Linked DNA regions of Homo sapiens. The protein of the gene in region 4 purifies or fractionates together with the protein of the main gene of each other region. This does not show direct contact. Each region holds a gene or a part of one and is shown on either strand. Other genes may lie near its edges. The genes, in order: OGA, ARFIP1, QDPR, HSD17B8, MOCOS, CYP24A1 and BCKDHA.

Region 1 (3,500 bases), on a different chromosome or scaffold from region 4:
CACCACCAGAAAGTAATTAAGTTGAAGGCACACTTAAATAGAGTAGTAAACCACAACACTAGATGGAGATGGGGTAAGCTGTAATTGCTTCTTTGTAATTCAAGAAAACTTTCAGCCTTCTGTGCCTTGGCTGGGCTCTGTAACCAAATATCTTGTTAGCTATATGCGTATACCATTTAATTTCAAGTACAAAAATGTTTCACCATTTACAAGTTCCCAAAGAAAAGCACCTCTCTAATTTGGCGGTTCAATGCTATACTACTTTTTATCAATTTTATGTAACCAACTCAACGTTAAGTATACCCATAGCAGGCCGGCCGGGCACAGGAGCTCAAGCCTGTAATCCCAGCACTTTGGGAGGCTGAGGCAGCAGAATCTCTTGAACTCGGGAGGGCGAGGTTTGCAGTTAGCCGAGATCGCACCACTGCACTCCAGCCTGGGGGACAGAGCAAGACTCTGTCTCAAAAAACAAAACAAAACAAAACAAAACCCAAAGACAGCCTATTAATGGCTTCCCACTTTCCTGGACTAGGGTTTAAGGACCAGTAACTGCTGACAAGGCCAAGCCATACTAGAGCCTGAAGCAAAAGGAACAATCAGTAGTGCTGATCCTGTCTTTACCTAAAATTTTAGCATTGTGTACATCATGAATTTCTGCATTAATTTTGGTTTTTTAAAAAAATTGCATAAAATATTATTTATGTTGATTACTTTTTGGGGGTCCCTTAAAATTTGCACCCAAGGTACGTGCCTCACTTGCCTTGCCCTGGGCCTAGCCCAGCTCCAGCACTTCTTTGCCCAGTGGCCCACTGTTTAATCCACTGGCAGAAGTAAGCAGCACAATCTATGACCACAGAACAGATGGAGTCAGCCTAGCACGCCCATGATATCACACATATGGTCATGACCTTGCTAGCGCAGAGCACTCTTTCAATCTCAGCTAACTGAATAGTTACCAGATAGAAGAAAAGGAAACTACCTACAAAATAAAAATAAAATGTCATAAAATTCTTGTACAACTACATTTAAAATATAACCGTTTTCTTCACAGATTTTGAATTTATGGATAAAAAGAAAAAGATTACCAGCTTCCTCCACTGAATACATCTCTCGCCAAAACATCCTATGTTTGTAGTCATCTTTTGGGGCATACAAGTATGTATTTAATTCCCATTTCTGGAGCCTTAAGGAGAAAGAAAATTACATATGTATAAACAGGCAACATTCATAGGCTGTCAATCTCCATTTCCCTCTTCTTGGAGCATCTCCATCTCATACAAAGCTAATATTCTATGACAGTAGCTTTTAACCTTTTTGTAATCAGTGGAATTTAAAAAAATTAAGTATTACAATGTATGCCAACATACAAAACACTCTTAAAAAACACAACAGCTCTGGGTAAGGTGAAGCCCAAAACTTATTCAGCTCCCCAGGAAAAGTTTGAAAATCAAAGGCCTAGGTGAAGAAAAAAGGGACCAAGGTAAAATAACTTCTGCAATTGAGAAACCATCAAAATGCACCTGGGCTATTCACTGTTAGTATTTCTTCAAACAAAAGAAAATGTTAAGAGTTTAAGGTTCTCCTCTCTCCTTCATATAATGAAGATTTACCTTCTAAAGAGTTCTTTTCTCTGTTCCATAACCCAAGGTCTTCCATAAAATCCTAGATTCAAAGTAAGAATGAAATTATATTCAGTTTTAAAATGTGGTAAGCTTTATTGAGAAAAGCAAGTTACAAAACATATAATACAATCCTATTTTGTAAAAAGCATAAAATACACCAAATCGGAAGGATATTTAATAAAATACTAAGGTTCCTTTAATCTTTGGGTGGTGACGTTACAAGGTGACTTTTATTCCATTTTTGCTTAGGTAATTTTTTTTATTTTTTCTACCATGACATTAGTTACTTAGGTGATAGTTATTTTAAAACAAACATCTATCATCTTTCCACTGTTGATAAAGTCCAAATATATTTAATTCCAATTTTTTAAGAGATCTCAATCTTATAATGGGGAACGGCAGCAATGTAATACAAGCTGCCAACAGTAACAATTACTTCCTAGAATGATAGTAAAACTGCTTTAGAAAGGGTGAGGGGAGGCCGGGTGAGGTGACCCACGCCTGTAATCCCAGCACTTTGGGAGGCTGAGGCAGGTAGATCACTTGAGGTCAGGAGTTCCAGACCCAGCCTGGCCAACATGGTGAAACCATGTCTCTACTAAAAATACAAAAATTAGCCAGGTATGGTGGCAAATGCCTGTAATCCCAGCTATTTGGGAGGCTGAGAAACAACAATCACTTGAACCTGGGAGACGGACTTGCAGTGAGCCGAGACTGCGTCACTGCACTACAGCCTGGGCTACAGAGCAAGACTCCATCTCAAACAACAACAACAAAAGGGTGAGGGGAGATAAACAGGTAAAGCAATTAAAAACAAATCAGAGATAGGATTAGGAAAGAATCTGACTTAATTTTATGATCGTGCTCCTCTTTTTTAAAAAAAGTTCCTGGCCAGGACTGGAATTCCAGTTACTTGGGAGGCTAGGGCAGGAGAACTGCTTGAATCCAGGAGGCGGAGGCTGCGGTGAGCCAAGATCCGCGCCATTGCATTCCAGCCTAGGTGACAGAGCAAAACTCTCTCTCTCAAAAAAAGTTCCACATACAATGATATAATCAAAGGGACCAAAAAATGCCTGAAACCACATTCCCAAGAAATTCAACAGCCTAACTGGCCCAAACAACAAACTCTCACGCAATCTTAATTACAGAGCAAAGATCTGAACAAATGAAAATTCAAGAATATTACTTCTGGTCCTTAAACGGAAAGGAATAAACAAAGAAAACTCAAGAATGTCCCCAGAGTATCCTCTAAGAGGACAAAACACTAGTTATGCACACACTGCAGAAAACAAACTCGCAGACCGATAACCTAAATGGTTGAATAAGCATCAAACTGGTATCTGGAACTCCCTAGTGTGCTCATCACAGCTCAAACCACACACTTTACATCTTGTCTAACCTTTACTTTCCACTTGTCTCAGTCTAATCATCAGTAAGAGATAAGGACAGCCTCTCAAGAGTACCATGAAGAAGGTTAATAAAAGCATTCTGAACACAAAATGTTCTACATAAACCCACACAATCTACATAAGAGACTAGTCTAAAACAAATTTCTGCAATGTATTTTAGCTCCAATCTCTAGGCAGAATGACTCCTCTGCACCACAAAAAGGACAATGACAGACCAAATTAAAATTCATTACATACCAATGTATAACTGTAGCACTTTCATCTGGACAATCTAATGTTAGCCTCTCACAAGTGATACAAAATATTCTTTTTTTTTTTTCTCAGGCGGAATCTCACTCTGTCGCCCAGGCTGGAGTGCAGTGGCACTATCTCGGCTCAATGCAATCTACGCCTCCAACTCCCGGGTTCAAGCGATTCTCCTGTCTCAGCCTCCCGAGTAGTTGGGATTACAGGAGCCCGCCACCACGCC
Region 2 (3,500 bases), on a different chromosome or scaffold from region 4:
AGAATAAGTTTTCCTCTGTCTAGCAACCTCACTTGGGGGAGCAGTCAACATAAGTTTATAGAGAATAGCGTATGCTAGGCTGGGCACGGTGCCTCACACCTGTAATCCCAACACTTTGGGAGGCTGTGGCGGGTGGATCACTTGATGTCAGGAGTTCAAAACCTGGCCAACATGGTGAAACCCCATCTCTCCTAAAAATAAAAAAATTAGCCGGGTGTGTGTTGCATGCCTGTAGTCCCAGCTACTTGGGAGGGGCTGAGGCAGGAGAATCGCTTGAACCCAGGAGGCGGAGGCTGCAGTAAGCCAAGATCCCACCACTTCACTCCAGCCTGGCCAACAGAGTGAGACTCCATCTCAAAAACAACATCAACAACAGACTAGCTTATGCTAAATTAGTTTCCTTTTAAGGTAATGACAAATTCGGAAGATATTTTATATCTAACACTGTAACAGTTACATTTATTTGCTTACCATGTGCATTAAGCTAAGTGCTTTACATTATTATCTCAAATGATAACCTTATAAAGTGGCTAAAGTCCTCATTTCTGTAGGTGAAGAAAATAAAGCTGAATGATTAACTGAAGCTAAAGTAGTCTGCTCAGAATTGCGCTGGTGGAGCCAGTGCATGGCTCCACCTACGTTGTCTGACTCTAGACTACTACTGTAGACAACTTCTACCATGCGTCCATTATGTCCTTTTTGAAATGAGTTGGAGATATATCACCTGACTTTCTATCAGGTGTTGAGAAAAGGTTGTTTCCTTTCTTAATCTTCAGTGGATGAACATCTGGTTGAATATCATACTGAGAAGTTTGACAAAAAAGTGAATTTGGTGGAGGCAGTTGGTAGGGGTTTCCTATGGGGATGGATATAAGTCTCTGGTGTGTGTGTGTGTGTGTGTTAGAACACACACACCTACTTGAAATAAAGAATTGTAAGTATTATAAATTCTTGAAATGAAGATTCAAATAATAAGCAGATGGTGTGTGTGTATATGAGGAGGGGAAAATGTGAAAATGAAGATTATAAGTAATAAACTGGGCATTGTAAGAGTCTGGAAGTATAAATAAATTTTAGAATAATACATTTGGGATGGAAAGAATAAATTCAGAATGGAAGAAGGAGTAAATTAAACAGGAAACTTTAATATGGTTATGGATGAAAAACTAAAATATTTGTACAGAATGGAAAGTGAGTTGTTCCACTTAATATGGAAGTTGATGACTTAGGATCATGACAATCTAAAAGTCAGATATGTAGCACTACTTCTGGATGTATGAAAAAGACTATTGGCCTGAAAATAATTTTGTTTTCCTTGATCTTTAGTAGCTTTTGGCAGTCATGGAAGCTGCCGAATGGCTCTTGCAGATTAACAGATATTCTTTATGAGACAAAAGTATTTATTTTCTTTTTCTTTTTCCTTTATTCCTATTCTCCTCTTTCTCCCATCTCTCATTCCATTCTCCTCCATTCCTTCTAAGCCTTTGTCTTAGGATGGGCATAGGCAGGTGTTGCTCAAACCTTTAGTTGTTCCTGAAAAAGGAATATAAAGTCTCTTTATGAAATACACTTTTTTCCCTTAATGAACATACTTATTTAAGTGAATGCTGTTTTTCAGAGTAGGCAATCTGCTTTGAAATCTTCTTCTAGTATGACTGTCGGTTCAGATTGAGACATACAAAAATGAAGTTCTTGCCTGGCTTCGTCACTTCGTGACCTCAGTCACCAGAATCTGAATAACTTTGGGTATTTGGAAAAAATCAGATCCTCTCTTGAAAGACAAAGATTTGGGGATCTGAAGGTAGTTGCAAAACAGGCAATTGCTCAAATCTTTTGTGAAAATATGGCAGTGTCTTTACCATGTTCTCACCTAAGATAAGAATTTATATTTTATTTTTGTATATCTGTGATAGCATTGGACTAGCAGCTCCTTGATGTTGAAGCTTGAGCCTCATTGGTCCCTGGGGAACAGTGACATACTGCCTTTGGAACAGGATCATAAAAGCAGCAGAGTTAGTGGTAAGCCCTAAATCTTCCAGAGGAGGGAGTCAGTTCGCCAACTCCAGTTTCTGCTAGCCTGAGATACTCATCATGGCACACATAAAAAATGATTATAATTGTATGGCAGACTAGAGCCAGGCCCTCCTTGGTTCCTTGGAAGCTGTGGAGTGGGGGAATGGGTCACAATTTCAGCACATCTGTAATCCATTCTTGGCACACTGTTTGGAAATCTTTGCCCTAGAGAAAAGGAATATGTTACTCTGTTTAATACCTTCTGTTTGTTTAGCATGTAATAATTTACAAAGCACTTTCACATACATCCTCATTTTATTTTTACTCCAGCCATACCAAATAGGTAGAGCAGATAACATCACCACATTAGAAATAAAGAAATTGAGATTTAGGTAAAGTGCTTTGTCCAGGGTCACATACCTAAAAAGGGATGGATCAGGAATTTATACCCTCAGTGGAAAGAGCCCCTGGGTTTAAGCCCGTGATCTGTAATCTCTAAAATGGCCAGGACCTTATCTGTTTTGTTTCAGTGCTATATATTGCCCAGGGTGGTCTTGAACTCCTGGGCTCAAGCGATCTTCCCGCCTTGGCCTCCCAAAGTGCTGGGATAACAGGCATGAACCACTGCATCCAGCATAAGTATTATAAATTCTTGAAATAAAGATTCAAGTAATAAGCAGAAAATGGAAAGGATGTTTTTTCTATTCCTCTAATCTCTCCACCCACCACACCTCTCTCCCAGTTAATTTGAAAAGTAGGTATTGGGGAATCAGATGAAATATATGAGAAAGCTGTAAACCTGCACTGTCTAATGCCAGGGATGCTAGCCACATGTAGCTATTTAAGTTAGTTAAAATTAAATACAATAAAAGATTCAGTTCCTCATTGTACCAGCCACATTTCAGTGTCAGTATCATATGTGGCTGGTGGCTACTTTATTGGACAGTGCAAATTTAGAACATTTCCAACAACATTGGCCAGCCCTGATAAAACTTTAAAATGCGACATGATATGATGTGATACATAATTCCTATATTGTTGAACCACGAGTTTAAAAATCTGCTACCCATGGTGCCTAGCAGTTTTTGTTTTAGCTGATGAAATGTTATTGCCATGTTCTCTCTCAGCTTTTTGTTTTAACTAAATCCAGATGGTCAAAGTCTAAGTCTAACATTTTTCTTGGATATTTGGGGATTATAGTTAGCTGCTTTTCTAGGATAAAGATGTCAGCTTCATTAAGGGCATGAGTGTTTTCTGTCTGCTTTGAGCTGTAGATCTGTATGTCTTGCTGTCTTGTTGACATCCTTTCTTGAATATCTTAAAGGTATCTCAAATCCAGTATGTCTAAAATGAAACTGATTTCCCCTTCCCTCCCTACAAAACTGCACAACGTTGGTTCTTTCTTTGTTCCTTTTTTCAGTGAATGACACAATTATCTTTTCATTGTAAAATCCAGAAAACTAGAAGTGATCCTTAATTCCCTCTCC
Region 3 (3,500 bases), on a different chromosome or scaffold from region 4:
CCAGTAGTCCCAGCACTTTGGGAGGCAGAGGCAGAAGGATCACTTGAGCCCAGGAGTTCAAGACCAGCCCGGGCAACATAACAAGACCTCATCTCTACATTTAGTTTTTTTTAAAAAAGACTTAAATCAACACCCTGTGTCTCTCCCAGTAGGAACATTTCAGTTGATTACCTCTTTCCCCAGTTTCATGACAAAACTGAATGTTATGCTGTTTGTTCAGAAATTCTTAAGGTTGGGGGTATGGTGGAGAAGGTACTCCTCTTCCTTTGGTGGAGTAGTAGAAGAAGGAAGAGATTTTCAAAGAAAAGTTTATAAGCACAAACGCATCTCTCAATCTCTGTCTTAGAGATGCACTCTACTGCCAAGCCTTGGGTGGGGACAACCTCCACATTCAATCTACAGGGACATTAGAAACCTATAATTAATCAGAGCAGAAGAGACACTGAAGAGACACCAATTACAGAGACCCGCACCTGGCAGGGCTGCTGCTCTCCAAGCCCAGGAACCGCCCTTCCATTTAGTTTTGGCTTTTATTACTTTATTTTTTGTTTGTTTTTTAGAGAAGGTTGGGCTCTGTTGCCCAGATTGGAGTGCAGTGGCATGATCTCGGCTCATTGCAACCTCTGCCTTCCAGCCTCAAGCCACCCTCCCACCTCAGCCTCCCGAGTAGCTGGGACTACAGTTGTGTGCCACCACATTCAGCTAATTTTTGTATTTTTTTGTAGAGATGGGGTTTCGCCATGTTGCACAGGCTGGTCTTAAACTCCTGGGCTCAAGTGATCCTCCTGCCTCAGCCTCCTGAAGTGCTGGGACTACTGGCATGAGCCACTGCACCCAGCCATTTTGGCCTTTATTACTTTATTCACATGAAACTATTTTGCTTTAAGGCAGCTTAGCATAGCAGTTAAGAGAACAGCCGTCAGACCCCCACTGCCCATGTCCAAATAGTGGCTATGCAACCTTTTATCTGTTTGACCTTGGACAAATACCAGGGCCTTTCTGTGCCTCAGTTACCCCCATTTAAAAGGAGGATAAAATTAGAAGCTTTGTTTGGGGATGTAATGAAGACTACACGTGTTAATGAAAATAAAGCACTGAGAATGGTGCCTGGCAACTAACAATGATGCCATGTCAACTTTCACTATTAAATTCACTAAGGTCAATCTGTATGACTTAGGTATGGGAACATTGAGACCACAGTGAGAAAAATAAGAACAACAAAAATGAAGTGCTAAAATAAGTCATCTGGCTTTTACATTCCAATCTATGTCAAACTGACACTTTAGAAAGAGCAAATGAGTAGCAGAGTTGTGCTCACAGTTTTATGTTCAAAATGTATAGATTTATACATGTATATTTTGGAGAGACAGACTGGAAGGAAATATAAATAAATGATTAACTATATGGTAGAACTATAAATGATTTCCCTTTTCTTTTTGCTTATTTGTATTTTCTATATCATACATGCATCACTTCTAAAATTTTAAAAATTTGTTATAAAAACCAGATAAGGATCATAAAACATCAGTATTGAGATTACCAAGGAAAGTGCAACTAAATGAAAAGCAGACCCACGTACAGACCAAGTGGCACCTGAACTTATTAAAGTTCGTATCTGGAGACCTATGATCCTGACTCCACCACTGAGTAGCTTGTTGGCCTTGTCACTTAGTCGCGCAAACTTGTCTTCACAGCTGTAAAATGGCCTGCCTGCCTGCCACACTGAGTGGTTGGGAAAATAAGGCGCTTCACATAGTGATGTGAAGTTATCCTTGGGAATGTGGGCTACAGCACTAAAAACCATTAAACACAGAGTCAGCTGCGCACAGTGGCTACTCAGGAAGTCCCAGCTATTCGGGAGAATGAAGCAGAAGGATCCTTTGAGCCCAGGAGTTCCAGTCCAGCCTGGGCAACACAGTGAGAACCTGACTCAAAAGTCATCCAGGCAGCTCACCAGAAGGGCTTCTCAAGAAAGTTAAGCACTGCTTAAGAGCATCAAAGATTTTTCTTTCTTTTTTTTTTTTTTGTTTTGAGACAGAGTCTCACTCTGTCACCCAGGATGGAGTGCAGTGGCACAATCTTGGCTCACTGCAACCTCTGCCTCCCAGGTTCAAGTGATTCTCCTGCCTCAGCCTCCCGAGTAGCTGGGACTACAGGCGTGCACCACCACGCTCAGCTAATTTTTGTATTTTTAGTAGAGACGGGGTTTCACCATGTTGGCCAGGATGGTCTTGATCTCCTGACCTCGTGATCCGCCCATCTCAGCCTTCCAAAGTGCTGGGATTACAGGTGTCAGCCACTGCACCCAGCCTAGAGCATCTAAGATATTTATACCAGGATATCCATCAAACTGTTAATAGTGCATCCTTCTGGGAAATGATACTATGATGGGGAGAAAAGGGACAGTTTCACAGTTTATTTCTATATTTACGTAGTTTTGTTGGACTTTTGTTTTATAATATGCATATCATTTTATAATTAAAAATAACCTGTTTTGTTAGTGTTCCTGCTGTGAACTGGGTAACTCCACTTTTTAGAATGTATCCTAAATAATCAGATATGTGGGCCAGGTGCAGTGGCTCATTCCTATAATCCCATTACTTTGGGAGGCCAAGGTGGGTGGATAACTTGAGGTCAGAAGTTCGAGACCAGCCTGGCCAACATGGCAAAAACCTGTCTCTACTAAAAATACAAAAAAGTTAGCTGGGCATTGGGGTGCATGCCTGTAATCCCAGCTACTCAGGAGACTGAGGCACAAGAATTGTTTGAATCCGGGAGGCAGAGGTGGCAGTGAGCTGAGATTGTGCCACTGCACTCCAGTGTCAACAGTAGAGCAAGACTCTCTTAAAACAAAAAACAATAATAATCAGATATGTAGACAAAGACGTTCATCACAACATTCTTGACAATAGTAAAACAAAAATCCTGCAAAAAACTCAAATGTACAATAAACAAACTAAATAAATTGTGGCCATTCCATAAAATGGAATATCACACATCTACAAAGAGGTTTTTTCAGTAATCTGGAGAATTATTTAAGTATAAAAAAAAAAAAAAACAAAGCTTACCATAAACTATAAAATACAAAATTACCTAAACTTGTAAAAGGAGTAACATACAATATGCATAGAAAAAGACAATAGGCCAAAATGTTAACAGTGAACTAACTCAAAATGATTATATAATTTATCTTTGTATCATTTTTCACTTTTTCCAAATTTTCCTCAATGAACACAAATGGCTTTCCTAGTTAGAGAAACAACAGCTTTAAAAAAAAGGAAGAACAGGCCAGGCGCGGTGGCTCATGCCTGTAATCCGAGCACTTTGGGAGGCTAAGGCGGGCGGATCACAAGGTCAGGAGTTCAAGATCAGCCTGGCCAACATGGTGAAACCCCGTCTCTACTGAAAATACAAAAAATTAGCTGGGGGTGGTGGCAGGCACCTGTAATCCCAGCTACTCAGGAGGCTGAGGCAGGAGAATTGCTTCAACCCAGGAGGCA
Region 4 (3,954 bases):
CAGCCCCCTCCCTCCTGCTCTCTCCAGCCCCTTTCATCGGCTGGTTCATTCCCCTAATCCTGGCCCCCTCCCCTAATCCCCCCCATCCGACCCCAGGCCGGCTGCAGCTATTGTAAGGTGGAGAGAAAGGGGAGGGGGGGACTCAGAGAAAGGAGAGGGGTGGGGGAGGGCCACCTGTTCCAAGACCCCCTTTCAAGGCCAGACTGGACACCAAGATGGGGCCATGAACAAATCACCCTTGGGGACCATAAGAACCCAGGGAGTTGGGGGGAGGGGACTGGTGCTGCAGAACCAGTGGAAAGGGGTGACGCACGAACCCCTCCCTTCAAAAAGACCCGGAGTGTCACGCATACACAGTGACACATACTCTTTCCTCTCACACCCGGCGGCGGGGGTTGCCCTGGGAGACCAGGCAGAGAAAGGGAACAATCCTTCGGGAAAGGGAAAGGAGGGGGAGGTGGGGAAGGGTCTGAGGGCTTGGACACAAGAAGAGCCGGAGGTGGCAGGGAAGAGGACTTGGAATTTATTAGGGTCACAAGCACCCCTGCTTCCCATATTCAGCATTCCTGAACCATACACTGCCACCCCTTTTGTATCCTGGGAACTTAGAGTCCTCATCAGCAGGAGGCCAGGCAGAGTGGTGGGGGGGTGAGCAGAGTCCAGGGTCCTTGAGGCAGTTACATGAAAAGACCTCCTGGGAGGGGCAGAAACATTTGGACAGATGCATGGGTGGAGACACAAATGGGCTAGGGGGTACCCACTTCTGTCCCTGGCCTTGGGAACCTCTGCCCTTCCCAGTGGCTCCAGACTCCCCTTACTTGCTTTCTCATATAGTCTGGGTTCTACTTCTCTGCCCTCTCCCTCCCCATGCTGGCCTCATACCAGTGACTTCCACTGAGGTCCCTGTGATGTATCCACTATCTTCAGATGCCAAGAATGCGACCACATCTGCCACATCTATGAGAATGGTGGGGAGAGGGCAGAATTCTGCTCACTCCCATAGACCCAAAACAGCCATAATCTCCCACCAAAGACATCCCTCCCCACAAACCTCTCCACAGACACCAACCACCAGTCCCCTAGAAAATCCCCAAACTTTGGGGATCTCTTCATTCAGGCCCCCTTCCCAGGGACCCCACTACATTCAGTGCTCACCCTCAGGGTCCCCCAAGTGTCCCATCGGGATCATTTCAGTAATCTGTAAGGAAATACTCATGTGGGTGAAAGCTTCTTTTATGGATTTTTTTGAAGACTGAGTCTGTGACCCTTTTTTGTCTTCATTTCTCATACATTCATTGAATATTTAATGTTTGCCAGGAACTGTGCCCAGTATTCTCTCTCTCTCTCTCTCTCTCTCTCTGTGAAGCCCAGAGAGATTGAGTCTCTGAATGATTCTGCCCTCCACCCACAGCCTCCTACCTTGTCCACCACTTTCTGTGGCACTTTCTGTGTCATGGGTGTTGCAATGAACCCTGGGAGGACAGAGTTACAGCGGATCCCATGTCTGTGGGAAGGAGAGTGGCTGCCGATTCTGGAGAGGGCTGAATGCTGGTACCTCCCTCAGACCCCCCAGGTGCTCCCCAGCACCCTCAAGCATCTGACCAACCGTCCAAGCTCCCGGGCTGCGGTCTGGGTCAGCCCAATCACTCCAGCCTTGGATGCTGCATAGTTTGTCTGCCCCACGTTCCCCACCTATAGGTGAGTCAGAGATGTGGAATGAGTCAGGAGTCTCAAGGAGGGGTTCTCCTCTCTATACCACTTGGCTGGCTGACCTCGTCCAACTCAACCTGACCTTTCCTACGATGCTACTGATGTTGATGATGGAACCACGACAACCATTGGACACCAGGGCTTGTGCTGCAGCCTGAGTGACTAGGAAGGTGCCCTGGCGGGAAAGGGTAACAAGGGAGAAAAGATCAGCTGGGGTGACAGCCCTCCTCCAACTCCCTCCCCAGGCTAAGGGGGCCAAACGTCGCAGGTTCAGAGATCGCCACCTTGAGGTTGACAGCTATGACTTTGTCCCAGTCATCCTCAGACATGTGCAGCAGAAACTCATCCTGGGTGATGCCCGCACAGGACACAACGACAGATGGTGGGCGAGAAAAGCAGGCCTATGGGAGGGGGAGGTTACGCATCAAAAACCCCCCACAAAAAGCCGGGGCAGTGGAGGCAATATCAGAGCTTTAGAGGGGGAAAGTGGCCTAGCGTTCACCTGCACTTGTTCCAGCAGGCACCTGGCGGCCCTGGCCTCAGACACGTCAGCCTGGAAGGCAGCATGGTTCCCTCGGGGCGGCCCCTCCTTGCTCCCTGGCCCGCCCAGCAGCCGCACCGTCTCCTGTGCCGCTGCCCGGTCCAGGTCGCAGGCAGCTACGGTGGCCCCCTCTCCGGCCAGGCGTACACTGACCGCTCGGCCGATGCCGCTCCCCGCACCTGAGGTAGGACAGAACACGCCGGACCGGGCACGGGGAGGAGAGGGCAGGGATCAGAGGTCACAGGGCAGAAAGTAAAATGTGGGTAAGGGGCCAGAGGTCACAGCGGCCGCGCACTCCAAGGGCACGCCCCTGACCTCACTCCAATACCCCAAACCGCCCGGGGAAAGAACCCCCTCAACCTGTGACCAAGGCCAGTGCGGAGCGGAGTCGGTTCTGGAGCTGAGACGCCATGGCGGGCTGTGGGTGGGTGGGAATCCCAGCACTAAGCCAATCCCAGCGCAGAGGGGCGTGGCAAGGGCAAAGCCGGGGCCAATCAAAGGCCCGCCAGCCTTAGGCCATCTGCGGCCACCAGCGCAGGCCGACCTCCCACCGAGGGGGCGTGGCCCGACACTGCTGCTTAGGGGCCCCGGGTGTGGAGAAGACAAGGGGCCCCATTCCCCCCAAAAAGACAAAGACTGCATGTGGGGCGGAAGATCGGAGGTCTTTATTTCCGGTTACCACCCCTCCCCCTCGATTCAAACACAGTGATATAAAAGGAATAGAAACAAAAAAAATCAGGCCATGAGAATACCAACTAACCCTCTCCCACCCCATCCCCCCAATCACTCCCAAATCAGGACACACGATTGATGTTTGATGTTTATCCCCGACTCCTCCTGTTACCCTCTCTGTCCAGGACTCTGGTCTTCCCTGAAGCCTCCACCAACTGGTGGGAGAAAGGAAACTGGACCTTGGAGAACTTCCTGTGTAGCAACTTGGTTCTCCGAGAACAGGTGGGGTAGGGGACACCAGGTAGGCTGCCATCACCCCCTGTCCCTTCCAGCCTTCTTCATGGCCCCATTTAGCCTTCCAAATGCAACATGGTCAGACAGTGCCCAACACTATGGTCCCTCTGGCCTCTCATTCTCACCGCTCCAGCCTCTGTAAGACTGCCAGCCCTTGAAGGCCCTAATGCCAAAGTAACCATTCTCCCAGGCTACAGTTCCTTCCTTTGGCAGATGTCCCTGGCCAGGGCCCCCAACCTCTACGCACCCCTGACCTGGAGTTAGGGGTAGAGGTTTGGGGCAGGGGTAGTTTATCCACCCCTCACTCAAGGTGGGCAATCAGCACCATCATGATAACTCCCCCCAGCAGCCCCAGCACCTCCAGAAGTGATTGCAATGGTGATGCCTCCCTCAGCAGCTCGGGCAACACAGACACTGTTGCTACGTAGATAAAGCCACCTGCAGTAAATGGCAGGACCCAGCCAGGACCTGCACCACCTGCAATTTCACTGCCCACTGCTCCTCCTTCAGTGAGAAGGGCACAGGCTGTGCCTGCCAGTGCCCCTACTGCTGTCAGTAGTTGCAGACGCATCGCCTGATGGGCAGAAAAGAGAAAAAGGCACTCACCAATAGCTAAAGATTATCAGTGGTTTAGAAGTGGCTGGTGGGGTATAGGTATAGGGGACATGGATTTGGAAACTAAACATCAAAATAAAAAGAGAAGAGGGAGCAGTCTAGAATAGACAATTTCTGAAAAA
Region 5 (3,500 bases), on a different chromosome or scaffold from region 4:
GTCCACATTTTAGCATGTATCAGAACTTCATTCCTGTTATGGCAGAATAGTATTCCATTGTATGAATATACCACATTTTATCCATTCATCTACTGAGGAATATTTGGATTGTTTCCACTTTTGTGTATTATAAATGATTGCTGGTATGAATACTGGTGTACAAGTTTTTGTGTGGATGTGTTTTCTCTCATTTGGTGGGTTGTCCTTTCACTTTCTTGATGGTGTTCATTGAAACATACAAGTTCTTTTTAAGTTTGATAAAATCCAATTTGTCTATTTATGTTGTTGCATTTTTGGTGTCATAAGAAATTATTGTCTAATTCAACAAGGTCCTAGTGATTTATGCTTATATATTACTCTAAGAATATTATACTTTTAGCTGTTTCATATTTAGGTATTTGATCCATTGAGTTAATTTTTGAATGCAGAATGAGGTAGGGGTCCAAGTTCGTTCTTTTGCATGTTGATATCCAGTTGTCCCAATATCACTTATTGAAGAAGTTATTTCCCTCGTTGAATAGTCTTGGTATCTGTTGAAAATCAATTGACCATAGACATATGGGTTTATTAAATTAAAATTATATTTCATTTGTCTATATGTGTATACTTATGCCAATATCACACTGTCCTCATTCTGTAACTTTTTTTTTTTTTTTTTTTTTTTTTTTTTTTTTTTTTTGAGACGGAGTCTCGCTCTGTCGCCCAGGCCGGACTGCGGACTGCAGTGGCGCAATCTCGGCTCACTGCAAGCTCCGCTTCCCGGGTTCACACCATTCTCCTGCCTCAGCCTCCCGAGTAGCTGGGACTACAGGCGCCCGCCACCGCGCCCGGCTAATTTTTTGTATTTTTAGTAGAGACGGGGTTTCGCCTTGTTAGCCAGGATGGTCTCGATCTCCTGACCTCATGATCCACCCGCCTCAGCCTCCCAAAGTGCTGGGATTACAGGCGTGAGCCACCGCGCCCGGCCCATTCTGTAACTTTGTAGTAAGTTTTGAAACTGCAAAGTGTGATTCCTCTAACTTTGATCTTCTTTTTCAAGATTGCTTTGAGGTCAGGTGTGGTGGCACACACTGTAATCTCAGCACTTGGGGAAGCTGAGGTGAGTGGATCATCTGAGGTCAGGAGTTCAAGACCAGCCTGGCCAACATGGTGAAACCCCATCTCTACTACAAATACAAAAATTAGCCAGGCGGTAATGGCGTGCGCCTGTAATCCCAGCTACTTGGGAGGCTGAGGCAGGATAATCACTTGAGCCTGGGAGGTGGAGATTGCAGTGAGCTGAGATTGCACCACTGTACTCCAGTCTTTGTGACAGAGTGAGACTCTGACTCAAAAAATAAAATAAAACGATTGCTTTGGCTATTCTGAGTCACTTGCATTTCTATATAAATTTTAGAATCAGCTTGTCAACTTCTGCAAAAAGGCAGCTGGGATTTTGATAGGCATTTCATTGAATCTGTATATTAATTTGGGGATTATTGCCATGTTAACAATATTAAGTCTTCCAACCCATCAGTACAGGATATCTTTCCATTTATTTAGGTCTTCTTTAATTTCTTTCAATGATGTTTTACAATTTTCAGTGTATGTGATACTTCTTTTGATAAATTTTTTTCTGTGTATTTTATTATTTTTGATGCCTTCGGAATTGTTTTTCTAATTTCATTTTCATAGTATCTATTGCCAATGTATAGAAATTGAACTGATGTTTGCATATTGATCTTGTATCCTACCACTTGGCTAAATTTGTTTTTAAATTCCAATAGTTTTGTGTGTGGATTCCTTGAAATTTTTTATACACAAAATTACATTATTGGCAAGTAGAGATAGTTTTACTTCTTTCCAATCTGGATCCCTTCTATTTTGTTTTCTTGCCTAATTGCCCTGGCTAGAGCCTTCAGTACAATGTTGAATAGAAATGGTGAGAACAGGCACTTTTGTCTTGTTTCAAACTCAGGATGAAAGTTTTCAGTCTTTCACCACTAAGTATGATGTTAGCTGTGGGGGGTTTTGCAGATGACCTTTATCAGTTGGTTAACTTTTCCTTCATTCCTAGTTTATTGAGTGTATTTGCATTCAAGAAATATTTATTGAGCACCTACTATGTGTCAGGCATTGTTCTAAGTGCTGGAGACACAGCAATGAACAAAATAGAAGATAGCATGATAATGGCAGAGAAAGACCTTAAACACAAACTATGTCAAGTGGTGAGACATATGGCTCACATGTGTGTGTGTGTGTGTGTGCACACGTATTTTAAGTGTACTGGACACAGTGACTCATATCTATAATCCCAGGATTTTGGGAGGCCAAGGCAGGATTGCTTGAGGCCAGGAATTTGAGACCAGCATAAGCAACATGTGAGACCCCATCTCTATAGAAATAAATAGCCAGGCATGGTGGTGCACACCTGTAGTCCCAGCTACTTGGGAGGCTGAGGCAAGAGGATAGCTTAAGCCCAAGAGGTCAAGGCGGCAGTGAGCTATGATCATGCCACTGCATTCCAGCCTGGGTGACAGAGCAAGTCCCCGTCTCAAAAAGTGTGCACATGCACACATAAATATGGACAACCACTGGAAAGATACACAAGACATGAGTGACAGCAATTGACTCTGAGGTAGACACAGTGGCTGCAGCTGGCGTGAGAGGGAGGCTCCCTGGTGATTCTTCACCCTCCTTTGGCAACTTTTGAATCTGATACCACTAAATGTTGTATCAGTCCATTCTCACATTGCTATAAAGAACTACCTGAGACTGGGTAGTTTATAAAGAAAAGAGGTTTAATTGACTCACAGTTGCACAGGCTGTATAGGAGTCATGGCTGGGGAGGCCTCAGGAAACTTTACAATCTTGGTGGAAAGCGAAGCAAGCACATCTTCATATGGTGACAGGAGAGACAGAGAGAGACAGAGAGAGAGAAGGTGCTTGTGAAGGGGCAGGTGCTACACACTTTTTTTTCTTTTTCTTTTTTTTTTTGAGAGATAGGGTCTTGCTCTGCCACCCAGGCTAGAGTGCAGGGGCTCAATCTTGGCTCACTGCAACCTCCACCTCCCAGGTTCAGCCTCCCAAATAGCTGGGATTACAGGCATGTGCCACCACACCGGGCTAATTTTTTTATATTTTTAGTAGAGACTGGGTTTTGCCATGTTGGCCAGGCTGGCCTCCCAAAGTGCTGGGATTACAGGTATGAGCCACTGCACCTGGCCAAAGAAAGTTTTTTTGTTTTGTTTTGTTTTTTTGTTTTTTTTGAGACAGGGTCTCACTCTGTTGCCCAGACTGGAGTGAAGTGGTGCAATCTCAGCTCACTGCAGCTCTGACTTTCCAGGCTCAAGCAATTCTCCCACCTCAGCCTCCACAGTAGCTGGGACTTTAGGCATGAGCTACCATGCCTGCCTAATTTTTGTATATTTTGTAGAGACGGGGTTTCACCATGTTGCCCAGGCTGGTCTTGAACTCCTGGGCTCAAGTGATCTGCCCACCTCAGCCTCCCAAGTGCTAGG
Region 6 (3,500 bases), on a different chromosome or scaffold from region 4:
GGTCATCATTTTACAAATGAAAAAAAAAAAGGAAGTAGAGAGTTTAGGGAACTGCTCAAGGTCACCCAGCAAGTTAGAGGTGAGCTGGGATTCAAACCCCAGTCTGGCTGACTTCCCAGCATAGCTCATCCCTCGTCATTCTCACTACCTTGCAGAGGATAATGAACCGCCTAGATGCTCACCTGAGGCGTATTATCGCTGGCAAAACGCGATGGGGAGTTCCCGGCTGGGCACCAGGGTGCCTGAGTGTAGCATCTCAACAGGCTCATTGTCTGTGGCCTGGATGTCGTATTTGCGGACAATCTGTAATGCACACGCACACAAAAACAGAATTACCCCTCTCTTCTTCTGCCTTGTGAAACAGCACAGAACATAATTGCAGAAACCGGTAAAGGTTTTACCCAACAAAGAGCCAAATGCAGTTGAAGCTCTGCTAATCGGCGACCAATGCACATTCTTTTTCCAACGCCAAATGGAAGATGCGCAAAAGGATTAATTTTTTCCTTCTCCTGAAGCCAACGTTCAGGTCTAAACTGACTTGAATCTTCAAAATTGTCTTCACTGGATCCCAACACCTGGGTATTTAGCATGAGCACTGTCTAAACACATGCAGAGACACATAGTATTTAAAATAACCAGAAGAGACCTTTGAATGGCAAAATTGACACAAGTTGTCACCTTACAAATCAAAAGCCAAATCCACAAATTTATAATAATGATGGTTGCCAACATGCGCTGAGTGCTTAAAATGTGCCAGGTAATAAATAGGTAAAGGGCTTTAGAATTGTGCACCATACTCACAACCACCCTGCGCAGCAGATTCTGTTATTAAACCCCTTTTACAGACGAAGTTGAGGCTCACAGAGATTATGTAACTCACTCAAGACAACACAGATAAAAGATGAAACTGAATGCAGGTCTCTGTCTCCATAGCCGTGAATTCTAATTCTATACTATGCAACATGTCAACTATTCTCTACCATCTCTGCATTCCCAAAATGAATATTTTCCAGTACAAAGTCTAGGGAGATCTGGTGAATATTTGCAAAGTGTATCTTCCAAGGTTTTGTAAGGTATAGAATATACAAATTCTACTTACTCCTTTGGGTAAAGCATATTCACCCAGAACTGTTGCCTTGTCAAGAGTCCGAGTTGTAAATGGTACACTCGGCGTAAGCCTGAAAAGATAAAATCAAAGATGTAAAGGTGAGCACAGTCTAAGTTCTCTCTGAAGTGTCAATGGGAATGCAGATTGGATTAAATAAATGCTGCCCAAGTGCATACTCAAAGAGGCAGCATGATCACAGATCTTCCTAAAGAAGTTGTTTTTTTCTTCTCAATAATTGTATCTCTTGTTCCTCTCATCTTCTTGAGTTAGTTAAAACCCCAGTGCAAGGCTGTTTAGTAAACTGTTAACGTTGGTTTTCCCCCTTCATTCCAGACTAAAATGTGTATGTTTCCGTGCTAGCCCTTGAAGCGTGATGTTTGTTCTATGTTTCTCCAATCTACTCTTCACAAAGTTGACAGTATCCTTCTAATCCTAAAATGTTGTGAGTTTTGTTTTCCCAAAAGGATGTAAAAAGAATTTCCAAAAAATGTTTTATACCAGAGGCTCAAAAGCAAAGCTTTCTCTGTGTCCTATTATATAATAATATAGCTCTTTTGTGAGCCTCCATCTCATAACCTTCAATCATGCCCCTATCTTAATTAGTGCTTACAGCGTTCATTAGAGTAGCAAGATTATTGAATTAAAGGGGAGGGCACTGGCTTTCCAAGATTTAATAGAATTTGCCCAAATGATTTAGGAAATGAGTGCCAGAAAAGAAATATGGCTCCAAAGATTTTTTTGCAGTGTGATAATTGTTTCTAATTAGCTAGGGGAAGCCGCCCATGAGTAGGGGACCACTTGTTTTGTGTTTACGAGAACAGTGTTCTAACACATTTATATTGGCTCAGAGATAGGCTCTTACCTCATAGATTCTTTCAGACAGGCTTTTAAATACGGCATATTCCTCAAATCTTCTGCCCGTGGCACCTGATTCTCAGGTAATACACTTTGAATTTCCTTAAGAAGCTTTTGTTGCACTTGGGGATTACGGGATAAATTGTAGAGAATCCACATTAGACTGTTTGCTGTCTGCAAGCCAAATGGACATAAACTTGAGTTTTTGTAAATAACTGCATTAAACCACTATTAGCTGAAAAAAAGGTGATGCCCACCACCTTATTCTGCAAATGTATCAGTGAAGCTCTTTCACGCGTCCTTATAGCTACGCCTTTAGACAAATCCAATATATAAAAAAGCAGACTTATTTCATAAAACATATCAATTAAGGATATATTTTAAATTATTTACTGAGGGAATCAAAGTATAATCCTTTAATCAGCTGCTTTAGAACATTTAAATACAGTTTTTTTTTTTTTTTGAGATGGAGTCTCACTCTGTCACCCAGACTGGAGTGCAGTGGCACTATCTCGGCTCACTGCAACCTCCACCTCCTGGGTTCAAGCGATTCTCCTGCCTCAGCCTCCTGAGTAGCTGGGACTACAGGCATCCACCACCATGCCTGGCTAATTTTTGTATTTTTAGTAGAGATGGGGTTTCACCATGTTGGCTAGGCTGGTCTTAGACTCTTGACCTCAGGTGATCTGCCTGCCTCCAAAAGTGCTGGGATTACAGGCATGAGCCAACTGTGCCTGACCTAAAATACAGTTTGACGCAATAATTGTTCGAACACAAATGAGTACATGTAAAATTGGTGAAATGAGAATATTAGTGGGTTAAATCAATGCCAATTTTCAGATTGTGACAACGTTTTCTCGTTAGACAGGACATTACTATTAGTGGAAAACTGGGTAACGGATGCAAGGGATCCCTTTCTATTTTTTCTTAGAACTGAATGTGAATCTACAATGATCTCAAAATAAACATTTAATTAAAAGTTGCTTGATATAAAAAACATTCATATAAAAATGGAGTAAACAGAGAGGGATGGTGATCCTCAGGGTGTTGCTAATGAGAGGCTTTAAGAGAATGTTATAGTGGAAATGGACAATAAATGGCATTTCTGAAATTTAAAAGTTCCTTTGGCCACACCCTAAAAAGTCACCACAAAAATAAACAGGCACTACCTACACTGAGGGTTACAACCACATGTAAACAGCCCTCATACGAGGGTGCCAACACCAAAAATAAGAAATTCAAACATTGAGCTGAGTACTCCAGCTACAGTTTCTGACAAAGGCCCACACCCTTTTAAGTGGCATCTTTTATTTCCTCTGCACAGGCAATGACTAGAGAAAAAATATTGGTGGAAACAGCCAATGTAGCTTTAAGCTACATAATATTCACCACTAGTAGTCATATGTATTTATTTTTTAGGCCGTACTTTGCTAATTTAAGCCAAATATTTCCTGAAAATGATCATTGTGTCCACCTCCGCAGACATGAAGACGCTGTTGCTAAGTGCCATGTGCCACTCACACAAATGAGCACCAAG
Region 7 (3,500 bases), on a different chromosome or scaffold from region 4:
GGTCAGTAATGGTGGCTTCACTTCCCACAGATGTTAAAGAATGGCAGGGTTTGCCACAAGCTGGATCTCACACATGCGTGCTCAAATGTGTCCCTCCGTCTTCCTTTAACTGCAGTGAACAAGCTGTCCACAGTTCTAGCGGGGTAGCATGTTCAGTGTGTGTATTTATTTGCATTTGTAGTCGTGAGGAAATTACACTCCCAATGGCAGGGCAGATTCAGGCCTGGCAATGTCACTGCAGGCCTCCCCTTGTGAGGAGGAAACAGCCGGCCTCTTGCAGCACAGTGCTTCCCCCTTCTGAGTACCCAGCATAGCCAGACACTGACCTAGAAGATTGCTTTGTTTCGTGTCTGTCTCCCACACACACCACAATCCCAGGAAGGCAGAGACAGCGTCCAGGTTGCCTTCACAGCAGGCACTCAAGAGGGAATTCCTGAGTGAATGCATGAATGGGCTGTTAAGTTCCCTGGCTCTGGAGTTCAACTGCCCTGGGTTCTAATTTCTTAGCTCATTGTGTGGCTCTCTGCAAAAACACTTCACCTCTCTGAATTTCCTTATCTGTAAGAAGGCTGCAGAACACCACGTGAAAAGTTGCTAAGTTAACTCACACCAGGGGTTCAGCACCGATCTGGGACGTATTACATACTCAAAACTTGGTAAGAGAGAGAAAAACAAAATCTAGGAAGGTGAGAAGTGGGAGAAAGGGAAGTGACTACACTGTATGAGATAGGGAAAAGAGGAGCTGGGAAGAACTAACTGCACCTTAAAGTGGATACTAAAATCAAACTGTGGCGATGTGCAGCGGCTCATGCCTGTAATCCCAGTACTTTGGGAGGCTGAGGTGGGAGGATCACTTAAGGCCAGTGGTTCGAGATCAGCCTAGGCAACATAGTGAGTCCAGCCTAGGCAAAACCCTCGTCTCTGAAAAATTTTTAAATTAGCCAGGAAGGCTGGGCGTGGTGGCTCACGCCTGTAATCCCAGCACTTTGGGAGTCCGAGGCAGGCAGATCACCTGAGGTCAGGAGTTCAAGACCAGCCTGGCCAACATAGTGAAACCCTGTCTCTACTAAAAATACAAAAAACAGCCGTGCATGATGGTAGGTGCCTGTAATCCCAGCTACTTGGGAGGCTGAGGCAGGAGAATGGCTTGAACCTGGGAGGCGGATGTTGCAGTGAGCCAAGATGGCACCATTGCACTCCAGCCTGGGTGACAAGAGTGAGACTCTATCTAAAAAAAAAAAAAAAAATTAGCTGGGAATGGTGGCATTTACATGTAGTCCAGATACTGGAGTTGCGGGAGGCTGAGGTGAGAGGATGGCTTGAGCCCAGGAGGTCAAGGCTGCAGTGAGCCATGACTGCACCATTGCACTCCAGCCTGGGCAACAAAGTGATACCCTGTCTCAAAGAACAATAAAACCAAACTGTGGCCCCAGCAGATACTCCAGAGAGGGAGACTGAGGCACAGGGGAGACGGCATGCTGATGGAAGAGGACCGAAGGCTGAAGTCTTCAGACGGGCACTAAGAGGGGAGGCCAGAGTCTGAGAACAAACCACTGTGTCAGGGCAGGACTGTCAGCCTCTAGAGGCTGGACAGCTATCTTCACGGCACCCCAGTGTGCTCCACATACTGCAGCTGGGTCTCGGCTGTACCCTCCTCCCCTCTTTGCTGGGCTGGTGGAGATAATGGTAGTCCCCAGCCCCAGGGTTGCTGCCCCAATTCAGTGAGCTATGCAAAGGGCTCCACGCTGTGCCTGGTCCTGAGGAAATGCTCCATAATGGGAGTGGGTGGCCAAATGCCTGCAGAGGAAGGATGCGACTCCACCCATCTGTTCCTCTAGTTTTTGGAAGGGGGTGGGGGAGTCTGTCCCGGTGGCCAGTGATTTACAATGGCAGAGGCTGCACAGATTTACACAAAGCTTCATGCCACGTCCTCTCCCACCATGCAGGAAAGCACAACCTGCCCGCTCTGGATGGTCTGGTCTGCCCAGGAAGTACTGGGGTGACCCTGGTGGAGTCACTTGAAGGCACCATGGCTAAGCGCATGGACTCTAACTGAGCAGACCGCTGCCTGATTATGTGACTTAAACTCCCTGAGCCAAGTGCAGTGGCAGACGCCTGTAATTCTAGCTACTCTGGAGGCTGAGGCAAGAGGATCACTTGAGTCCAGGAGTTCGAGGCCAGCCTGGGAAACATAGTGAGACCTCGTCTCTACAAAAATAAATATATAAATAAAATTTAAGGCCAGGTGTGGTGGTTCACACTTGTAATACCAGCACTTTGGGAGGCCAAGGAGGGAGGATCGCTTGAGCCCAGGAGTTCAAGACCAGCCTGGATAACATGGCAAGACCCCATCCCTACAAAAAATTAGCTGGGCATGGTGGTGCACACCTGTACTCCCCAACTACTTGAGGGGCTGAGGTGGGAGGATCGCTGGAGCCCAAGAGGCTGCAGTGAGCCAAGATCACACCACTGCACTCCAGCCTGGGTGACAAAGTAAGACCTGTCTCAAGGAAAAAAAAAAGAAAAAATTTTTAAAGAAAAACTCCCTGAGCCTCAGTTTCCTCCTGTGTACACCGAGGGTGGTATAAGTACTTATCTCAGGGGTTGTCATGAGGATTAACCGAGTTGACCTGTGTGGATTGCTCAGCCCAGTGCCTGGCACATAATGTTTCATAAACACAAGTAGTGAGTAAGTATTTCTCATGATTGTTCTTGTTAAACAGATACTGAACATTTGCTCCAAATCATGCCCTGAACTGAAGGCTAGAGACAGGGAGGGATGAATGACAAACACTGAACACACAAGTTATAATCAAGACAGGTGATCTTACTCACATTGCTTCACCTGACTAGCCTAAAAAAACAAAAAAGTGTCAAGTTGACAGGTAAGCCAAATGAAAATACAGAAATAATATGGCTGGGTGCGGTGGCTCATGCCTGTAATCCCAGCAGATTTGGGAGGCTGAGGCAGGTGAATCACTTAAGGTCAGGAGTTCATGACCAGCCTGTCAGGCTGATCACGATGGTGAAACCCCATCTCTACTAAAAATACAAAAATTAGCCAGGCGTGGTGGCACGCACCTATAGTCCCAGCTACTCAGGAGGCTGAGGCAGGAGAATCGCTTGAACCTGGGAGGTGGAGGTTGCAGTGAGCCAAGATCGCACCACTGCACTCCAGCCTGGGTGACAGAGTGAGACTCCATCTCAAATAAATTAATAAATAAAATTAGGCTGGGCGTGGTGGCTCACGCCTGTAATCCCAGCACTTTGGGAGACCGAGGCGGGCGGATCATGAGGTCGGGAGATCGAGACCATCCTGGCTAATAAGGTGAAACCCTATCTCTACTAAAAATACAAAAAATTAGCCGGGCGTGGTGGCGGGCGCCTGTAGTCCCAGCTACTCGGGAGGCTGAGGCAGGAGAATGGCGTCAACCTGGGAGGCAGAGCTTGCAGTGAGCCGAGATTGTGCCACTGCACTCCAGCCTGGGTGACAGAGCAAG

The links.
Region 1: the proteins of HSD17B8 (region 4) and OGA purify together in Homo sapiens (co-immunoprecipitation; one large-scale study listed by IntAct). This does not show direct contact.
Region 2: the proteins of HSD17B8 (region 4) and ARFIP1 fractionate together in Homo sapiens (co-fractionation; one large-scale study listed by BioGRID). This does not show direct contact.
Region 3: the proteins of HSD17B8 (region 4) and QDPR fractionate together in Homo sapiens (co-fractionation; one large-scale study listed by BioGRID). This does not show direct contact.
Region 5: the proteins of HSD17B8 (region 4) and MOCOS purify together in Homo sapiens (affinity purification with mass spectrometry; 4 studies listed by BioGRID and IntAct, with this or other methods). This does not show direct contact.
Region 6: the proteins of HSD17B8 (region 4) and CYP24A1 purify together in Homo sapiens (affinity purification with mass spectrometry; one large-scale study listed by BioGRID and IntAct). This does not show direct contact.
Region 7: the proteins of HSD17B8 (region 4) and BCKDHA purify together in Homo sapiens (affinity purification with mass spectrometry; one large-scale study listed by BioGRID and IntAct). This does not show direct contact.

The regions. Positions count from the first base shown.
Region 1 is NC_000010.11:101,811,945-101,815,444, forward strand, and holds part of OGA (protein O-GlcNAcase), read right to left. Parts: intron 1,663-3,500; coding exon 1,611-1,662; intron 1,184-1,610; coding exon 1,086-1,183; intron 363-1,085; exon of another isoform or gene 308-362; coding exon of another isoform or gene 304-307; intron 1-303.
Region 2 is NC_000004.12:152,782,954-152,786,453, forward strand, and holds part of ARFIP1 (arfaptin-1), read left to right. Parts: intron 1-3,500. UniProt on the Homo sapiens protein: Plays a role in controlling biogenesis of secretory granules at the trans-Golgi network. Mechanistically, binds ARF-GTP at the neck of a growing secretory granule precursor and forms a protective scaffold.
Region 3 is NC_000004.12:17,505,591-17,509,090, forward strand, and holds part of QDPR (dihydropteridine reductase), read right to left. Parts: intron 1-3,500. UniProt on the Homo sapiens protein: Catalyzes the conversion of quinonoid dihydrobiopterin into tetrahydrobiopterin.
Region 4 is NC_000006.12:33,203,378-33,207,331, reverse strand, and holds HSD17B8 ((3R)-3-hydroxyacyl-CoA dehydrogenase), read right to left. Parts: upstream 2,678-3,954; 5' UTR 2,664-2,677; coding exon 2,612-2,663; intron 2,431-2,611; coding exon 2,213-2,430; intron 2,112-2,212; coding exon 1,995-2,111; intron 1,886-1,994; coding exon 1,793-1,885; intron 1,693-1,792; coding exon 1,607-1,692; intron 1,505-1,606; coding exon 1,420-1,504; intron 1,199-1,419; coding exon 1,156-1,198; intron 958-1,155; coding exon 883-957; intron 695-882; coding exon 678-694; 3' UTR 501-677; downstream 1-500. Other genes in the region: zinc transporter SLC39A7 isoform 1 precursor, read right to left, coding at 3,519-3,791. UniProt on the Homo sapiens protein: Required for the solubility and assembly of the heterotetramer 3-ketoacyl-[acyl carrier protein] (ACP) reductase functional complex (KAR or KAR1) that forms part of the mitochondrial fatty acid synthase (mtFAS).
Region 5 is NC_000018.10:36,190,497-36,193,996, reverse strand, and holds part of MOCOS (molybdenum cofactor sulfurase), read right to left. Parts: intron 2,876-3,500; exon of another isoform or gene 2,794-2,875; intron 531-2,793; exon of another isoform or gene 1-530. UniProt on the Homo sapiens protein: Sulfurates the molybdenum cofactor. Sulfation of molybdenum is essential for xanthine dehydrogenase (XDH) and aldehyde oxidase (ADO) enzymes in which molybdenum cofactor is liganded by 1 oxygen and 1 sulfur atom in active form.
Region 6 is NC_000020.11:54,156,987-54,160,486, forward strand, and holds part of CYP24A1 (1,25-dihydroxyvitamin D(3) 24-hydroxylase, mitochondrial isoform 1 precursor), read right to left. Parts: intron 2,138-3,500; coding exon 1,971-2,137; intron 1,179-1,970; coding exon 1,100-1,178; intron 600-1,099; coding exon 402-599; intron 304-401; coding exon 193-303; 3' UTR 183-192; exon of another isoform or gene 1-182.
Region 7 is NC_000019.10:41,404,318-41,407,817, reverse strand, and holds part of BCKDHA (2-oxoisovalerate dehydrogenase subunit alpha, mitochondrial isoform 1 precursor), read right to left. Parts: intron 1-3,500. UniProt on the Homo sapiens protein: Together with BCKDHB forms the heterotetrameric E1 subunit of the mitochondrial branched-chain alpha-ketoacid dehydrogenase (BCKD) complex.